Homo sapiens: one gene and its partner. The protein of the gene in region 2 purifies or fractionates together with the protein of the main gene of each other region. This does not show direct contact. Each region holds a gene or a part of one and is shown on either strand. Other genes may lie near its edges. The genes, in order: NAA15 and TRAFD1.

Region 1 (3,823 bases), on a different chromosome or scaffold from region 2:
TACCGGTATGTGCCACTGTGCCCAGCTTAGGAAGCTTATTTAAGCTGCCTGTTTTCATACGATCACAATGTAACATATACACACTGCCTCTTCCATTCTAAAAACATGTACCTTATATTATTGTTGATTCATTAAAATTACTGAAGTTGTTTTAGAAGGCTAAGGATAAAATAAAGTGATTACCTGATAATCTGTGTGGCAATGAATCAGAATTCCTTTTCAGAAAAGTTTCATTAAAATTCTTTGGATTCGTTGCTCCAAAAAGACGATTCATTTCTTGTTTTAATACTGTTCTAACTGTATCAGATAAATCTTTACTTTCACACACTGCTGAATAAATTAAAAATAAAATCTTAGCAGTTGAATACTCTGATAAAGTTTACAAAAGTTTATTTTTGTTTGTGTTTGAGACAGGGTCTTGCTCTATCACCCAGGCTGGAGTACAGTGGCACAACCATGGCTCACTGTAGCCTCAACCTTCCAGGCTCATGCAATCCTCCCACTTCAGCCCCCCAGGTAGCTGGGACTTCAGGTGTGCACCACCACACCCAGCCTATAGGAGTTAAATTACCTAATGATGAGGCCAATGAAACATGGCAATTATATACAAAGACAAGATAAAACCTACTGATAATTTAACATTTGCAAAAAGAGCTTACCTATATAAACTGACTGACTGATTGAGACAGACAAGGTTTTACTGCCACCCAAGCTGGAGTACAGTGGCGCAATCATGGCTCACTGCAGCGTCAACCTCCCAGGCTTCAGTGATCCACCCACCTCAGCCTCCTGAGAAGCTGGGACCACAGGTGCAAGCTACCACGTCCAGCTAATTTTTCTATTTTTTTGTAGAGACAGGGTTTCGCCATGTTGCCCAGGCTGGTCTCCAACTCCTGGGCTCAAGAGATCTGTTCACCTTGGCCTCCCAAAGTGTTGGGATTACAGGCATGAGCCATCATGCCCAGCAATACACATTAAAAAGAATGTATGTCAGCAGAACAATCTAATGTTCTAAAGGCATTCAAATAATTTTATTAACACGAGATTCATTTCCAGAAAGGAACTGTAAGCAAAGGAGATGACAAAACAAGTAGTTTCACAGCCTTCTAAACCCCTAGAGCTGCCCCCTCAACCTTAAGGTCTGCAAAGCAGCAACTTGGGAATACCCACCTGGTAAATAGTATCACAGCCAACTATGTAGTGCTGAAGACAACAAATTTTCCTCACCCTCCCTATCTTCCTCTATACCCAAGTAAGGCACACGTTTCAATTAAAAACAAAAGAAAACATGGTTGATGTCATTGACCTTTATTTCAGAAACTATGTAAATTGAGCTATCACTGTATAATAAACTCCCAAGGACCACCAAAGCATTTTCCTATTAATAAATAGGCTGGGCACGGTGGCTCACACCTGTAATCCCAGCACTTTGGGAGGCCAAGGCGGGTGGATCACTTGAGGTCAGGAGTTCGAGACCAACCTGGCCAACATGGCGAAACCCCGTCTCTGCTAAAAATAAAAAAATTAGCCTGGCATGGTGGTGTGTGCCTGTGGTCCCAGCTACTCAGGAGGCTGAGGCAGGAGAACAGCTTGAACCTGGGAGGTGGAGGTTGCAGTGAGCCAAGATCATGCCACTGCATTCCAGCCTGGGTGACACAGTGAGACTCTGTCTCAAAATAAATACATAAATGAATGAATGCACTGTTGTCATCATATTCCCAGGCCTTGGGATTTAGAGATGATTCCTCTGGATTGAATCCAAGTTATACTTTGTTTCATTATCATTTTGGTATAAAGAGAGAGTCTGGAGCTTTGAAGCCAGTTAGACTTGGGTATGGATCCAGGCTTGGATAAGTCATAACCTCTCTGAACCTATTTCTTGATCTATAAAACTGGGGTGATATCTAATCTAAAAGATTTACAGTAAGGAAAAGCTACTGTGTAAAAGTGCTAATTATGTAATAGGTAGTCAATAAATCATAGTTACTATTTTTATCATAGTGTGAAAACATTACGTAGATTTTCCTTATGGCTGGGAACTATGGTGATGACTTTCAAATTTTCACTTTAATCAGGTATTTGTACTGCGACAAATACATATTCCATATCCATAACTTATGTGAAGCAAAAGTTTCACAGAACACTTACTGTGTGCAACATATGCTGATCTTTTCTACACTATTCTATTTTTATTTTGGGTTTTTGAGTGCTGGTAATGACCCACTATCCTGCTAATGGATCATTAATCTAAGTTTAAAAAATATAATGAACTCAGTAGGAAACATTTTCTAAGTGAAATATTCTATACATAATTATTAGCTGAATAATTCACTGACATGCTCTTTGTTGGTTAAATAGCATTTCTTCTATTATTCTATAAAACTGGGTGGTTCAAGTAAATGAGCTATAGTGAAATACTTTAGTTTAACCTCTACTATGGCTGTACTTTCAACTTGGTTTTGTCAATCTATCAATACTTGTTTTTCAGTGGAAAAGCAGGAATAGAGAGGAAACAGAAAAAAGTTATTAAAATAGGTTACAGCCAACTGCAATGACATTAATTATCTCAAAAAGAATGTATCTTCTGTACAATAAAAATTATTTACATAGGCCTTGCTGGTTTGCCTGAAATGCTTTCAGGATACTTTACATGTAAAAAATATCTGCATAGTTTGTATCATAGTTGATGAAGAGAGGGGTAGGCAAGGGGTTTTTATGGTTTTCATTATCTTTTTTTAACTTGTTTTAATCAGATTAAACAATCTCCCAGAAAAATTAAAACTGCTAAAAAAAACTCTACCAAAACTGAAGCAAATAACTTCACTAACAGCTGATTCCAAAAAGTTTGAGGCCTACTAATTTTCTCCTAAACTTTTCTGGATATTTTCCTGGAAATTACAGTTCCAGAAAACTAGAATTGTTAACCTCCAGGAAAATATCAATTACAAAAAGGATAAAAAAATTCTACTGCAGTAAAACCCAGAATGTCCTATGGAATTCTGTGTAATGAAATTTTATGTGTACCCTTAAGAAAAGGAGCAACATCATATGTCACAGATTATCAGATGTCCATTTACTGCTAAAGACTAGTGGGCAGGGGAGAAAAACTCTAAAAAGCCTTTGAATGTGGTAAAACTGACAAAAAACATCAAGGCCTCAGGAAAGTAGCAAATCCCCTACTAACTCAATTACCTTCCATGAAAGAGTAATAAGTCTTGAGAATCAAGGAAAAGTAATAACTGATGAGCGAGAAGGGGAATATAAAACCTTTTCTAAGGGGTTTTTGATTTGGGTCCTTTGACATCTTAAACTGGAATGTTTGGTTCATGCTATTAGCTTATTAACAGAATGAATAAATTAAGCAAGCACCAATGGTTAAAACACACAATGAAAAGGTGGCTGATTCTTAGCAAAAGGGATTGCACAGGGTTCTCAGGCTAGCTGGCATTGTTAATAATTTGGGTAAAAAATGTTCTTATTTTGTGTGAGGTAATGACTGTTCACTACTAGGTTATAGTACAACCGAGTAAGTGATTACAACTCAAAAACGGCAAAATAAATGAGAAAATTAAACAAAGCTTAAAAAAATAAAAAATTTAATAATTTAGTAAGTATTAAACAAGGTTTAATAAACAAATTAGATTATGAAAGAAGGTTGGAGGAGACATACATAAGTATAAAAAACATATCTGCAGATCAAAGAAAAATGAGTTTGTGCAAATGGGAGAGGAAAAAGACCTAAGTTTCACTGTAGATCAAGGCAGCCAAATAGTGCTAATTTTAAAAGCAGTTAGGAGAATATAAACATTTAAGAAAATAATAA
Region 2 (3,823 bases):
AAAATGAAGCCAGATGTGGTGGCTCACGCCTGTAATCCCAGCACTTTGGGAGGCTGAAGACAGGCAGATCACAAGGTCAGGCCAACATGGTGAAATCCCGTCTCTACTAATAATTAGCTGGGAGTGGTGGTGGGCGCCTATAATCCCAGCTACTCAGGAGGCCGAGGCAGGAGAATTGCTTGAACCTGGGAGGCAGAGGTTGCAGTAAGCCGAGATCACACCACTGCACTCCAGCCTGGGCAACAGAACAAGACTCCGTCTCAAAAAACAAACAAACAAAAAAGAATTTTAAATGAAATGACAGCTTGTAAGGCAGGCTGTGTGCTAAAGAGGTTATCCCATACTGGCAACTCTAGGGCTGGCTTCATATTCAGTGAGGCTGCCAATAACCAAACCCCAACAGAAATAATAGACTCAGTTCCAAAGGGAGATACTTCGCGAGTCTCAACATACACAAGTGAGTTCCAACAGCCAGGTAGCCGAATCTGGCAGCAGTTACATAGTCAAGGCCTCAAACAGGCTTTGAGAAACAGTATGCATGTGAGCTCACGGAGAACTAACACTCAACCAGACTGGCTTCCTGCTCTGCATGTGGGTCTGTAATCTCAGCAGGACTGGGCCCACGGTAACTCACTCCATGGACTAACCTCATGCTTCTTTAACAGCCTCTTCTCCAACTTCTTGTTACATTTGCAGGTCACCTAGAGTAAGAAGTGAGAATCAGTAAATTGGCTTTGGGACAATATGCTCATTTGCTATTGCACAATAGCAAACAGAATACATTTACGAACAACAGCAAGTATAACACATGTATAAACATTTGAGTACTTGGTGGCTCACCTGACAGTGTTCTGCAGCCATGTGAGTCTCCATGTCAGATTTGGGAAATGGTTCCTTACAGGTAGGACACATACCAATGTTCCTTTGACAGTGGATCTCATGGATGGTAAAGTTAAACACAGGAATTTCTTTTTTGCTACGGAAATAGACCAAAGAAAAAGGCAAGCATTACTGACTAATCTATGCCTTTTCTTGCACAGTGGCATCACATGGAAATCTGTCCTGTCCAATCTTTAGTCTCCATTATTTATCTTTAGTGAATACCTAGCCTACAAACTCATGACTATTACCATTCCTGCTTTTCAAGAACTAAATCCTGGCCAGGCGCGGTGGCTCATGCCTGTAATCTCAGCACTTTGGGAAGCCGAGGCAGGCGGATCACCTGAGGTCAGGCGTTCGAGACCAACCTGGCCAACATGGTGAAACCCCATCTCTACTAAAAATATAAAAATTAGCCAGGCGTGATGGCGGGCACCTGTAATCCCAGCTACTCGGGAGGCTGAGGCAGGAGAATCGCTTGAACCCAGGAGGCAGAGGTTGCTATAAAAAAAAAAAAAAAAAACTGGCCGGGCGCCGTGGCTCACGCCTGTAATCCCAGCACTTTGAGAGGCTGAGGCGGGCAGATCACCTGAGGTCAGGAGTTCGAGATCAGCCTGGCCAACATGGTGAAACCCCGTCTCTACTAAAAATACAAAATTAGCCAGGTGTGGCGGCACATGCCTGTAATCTCAGCTACTCAGGAGGCTGAGGCAGGAGAATCGCTTGAACCCGGGAGGCGGAAGATGCAGTGAGCCTAGATCGTGCCATTGCACTCCAGCCTGGGCAACAAGAGCAAAACTCTGTCTCAAAAAAAAAAAAAAAAAAAAAAAAAATTAAATCCTTTCCAGGTGCAGTAACGCCAGCACATTGGGAGGCTGAGGCAAGCAGATCACTTGAAGTTAGGAGTTCAAGACCAGCCTAGCCAACATGGTGAAACCCCGCTTCTACCAAAAATATAAAAAATTAACCAGGTGTGGTGGCGGGTACCTGTAATCCCAATTACTCGGGAGGCTGAGGCAGGAGAATCACTTGAACCCGGGAGGCAGAGGTTGCAGAAAGCTGAGATCATGCCACTGCACTCCAGCCTCGGGGATAGCAAGATTCCGTATCAAAAAAAAAAAAAAAAAGAACTAAATCCTGAAGGCTCTTCTGTGCAACATTCTGAGTTACCGGTGCTATGCACTACTACATCTAAAAGCTCAGCCTTACTTTCTCAAAGTCAGAGCTGATCACAACATGAAGTCAGATGCCAAAAAGAGTGGAGCTAGGCTATTCCAAAACCATCCATGTCCCAAAGCAGAGTGATACGCTCCAGGATTATTTTAAAACAGAAAACAAACCAAAACAACAACAAAAACAAGTGAAAAAACACCCTACCACTGATTTTCTCTCACTTTTAAGTAGTTTAATTTCATTGGATTTTATTCCATGAAAAGTCAAACCAAAAAGAGAAGACTCCAGCTTTTGGACAGTCAAAGGGGAAGGGGAAATTGTCTCCTGTATGCCTCACATGCCTTTCGAAGCAGGCTGGATGCTTCCTGACTACAGGAACATGCTCTCTGGCTGGGTTGGTAGAAACTTCACTGTAAAGCTGTACAAAAATGAAATCCTGAACCCTTTCCTCCACCAGTCTGGTCTCTCCACTTCATTTTTGCCTTTCTCACTTAGTTTAGTGGTTCAAAGATCATATCTAAGCTATACAAATTAAGGAGGTAAAGTGATAATGTTACATGAAAGAGTAAGACCATTTAAACATGAAAAGATTATACATGTACTCGAACTAAAGGTACATTCTATTCAAAGGCCTTACTTTTACTTATTTGGATAGGACCATTGTAAAATTCCAATTTCACCAGCTAAAAACTACATTAAAGAAGGTACGTATAACAATAATTCAGAAAAATAAAATACTGAACAGGATCAATACAGATAGTCATAAAACACATTATTTAATACCATATTTTGCCTCTGAAGCTGAATACTAGAAGAACTGTCTCCCATACTAAATTATAAATAGCTTATTTCTCTTTTAATAACCTTTAATATTCAGACATTGTCTAAGAAACATTTTGAAGTAGGATAAATGATGTGCCTCCAGCTATAGTCATTCTTCCAAACTGAAAGACCAAGACACCAAGGAAGTGCAAATTCATTTTCATCCAGTGGTGGAATTATCAAGCTAGGGACCCCAAGGCAGCTCTCAAAGCAGCACTGGAAGGTGACAGAACAATCAACTGTGAGAGATGGGAAGAAAACTCAAATGGATAAAGAGGAAAATTACTGACAGATTTAACTTCCCATATTTCTCTCAAATTTTTAGCTTTCTAAGGAAACTACTCATTTTGAATTAATTTAGTTAAAATAATACATCCCAACTTTTTAAAGATGTTGTGAAATGAATACTTTAATACATTACTGGTGGTAGTATAAACTGCCTAAAAACAGTCTGAAAATTCATTTCTAGGACCATAAAATTATATACTCTGTAACACAATAATCCTACTCTTGGGATTATGTATGAATATTTTCATTACAGTATCATAGAATGGTAAAAAATGAAAGTCATTAAAAATACCTAAGCAAGAAAGGAATAGCTAAGTTACATATAGTATACCAACAAAGTGAAAGAAGAAATGTTATATTGTGATTGTAAATCATGTATGTACAAATGCCATGAAAATTAAAGCCAGTAATTACTGCTTAGGGTGTAGAAAACCTGGGTTCCTTTTTCATAATATTGGCAATAATTTTTATTTTAATGGTAAATATGGAGACACTAAATGTCTAGCATTTACTTTACAAGGCTGTTCAGGATAACTTGTTGACATACTACATACACAAGGCCCCTAAAACTTTAGAATTAAAACAAAAAATATTAAGGACCACACCATCATAATATGAAGCAACAAGAATCAAAAGCAGCTGTCAAGTAAGACCACAAAGC

The links.
Region 1: the proteins of TRAFD1 (region 2) and NAA15 purify together in Homo sapiens (affinity purification with mass spectrometry; 2 studies listed by BioGRID and IntAct, with this or other methods). This does not show direct contact.

What each region holds. Positions count from the first base shown.
Region 1 is NC_000004.12:139,381,339-139,385,161, reverse strand, and holds part of NAA15 (N-alpha-acetyltransferase 15, NatA auxiliary subunit), read right to left. Parts: intron 331-3,823; coding exon 184-330; intron 1-183. UniProt on the Homo sapiens protein: Auxillary subunit of N-terminal acetyltransferase complexes which display alpha (N-terminal) acetyltransferase (NAT) activity. The NAT activity may be important for vascular, hematopoietic and neuronal growth and development.
Region 2 is NC_000012.12:112,131,891-112,135,713, reverse strand, and holds part of TRAFD1 (TRAF-type zinc finger domain-containing protein 1), read right to left. Parts: intron 977-3,823; coding exon 841-976; intron 702-840; coding exon 648-701; intron 1-647. UniProt on the Homo sapiens protein: Negative feedback regulator that controls excessive innate immune responses. Regulates both Toll-like receptor 4 (TLR4) and DDX58/RIG1-like helicases (RLH) pathways.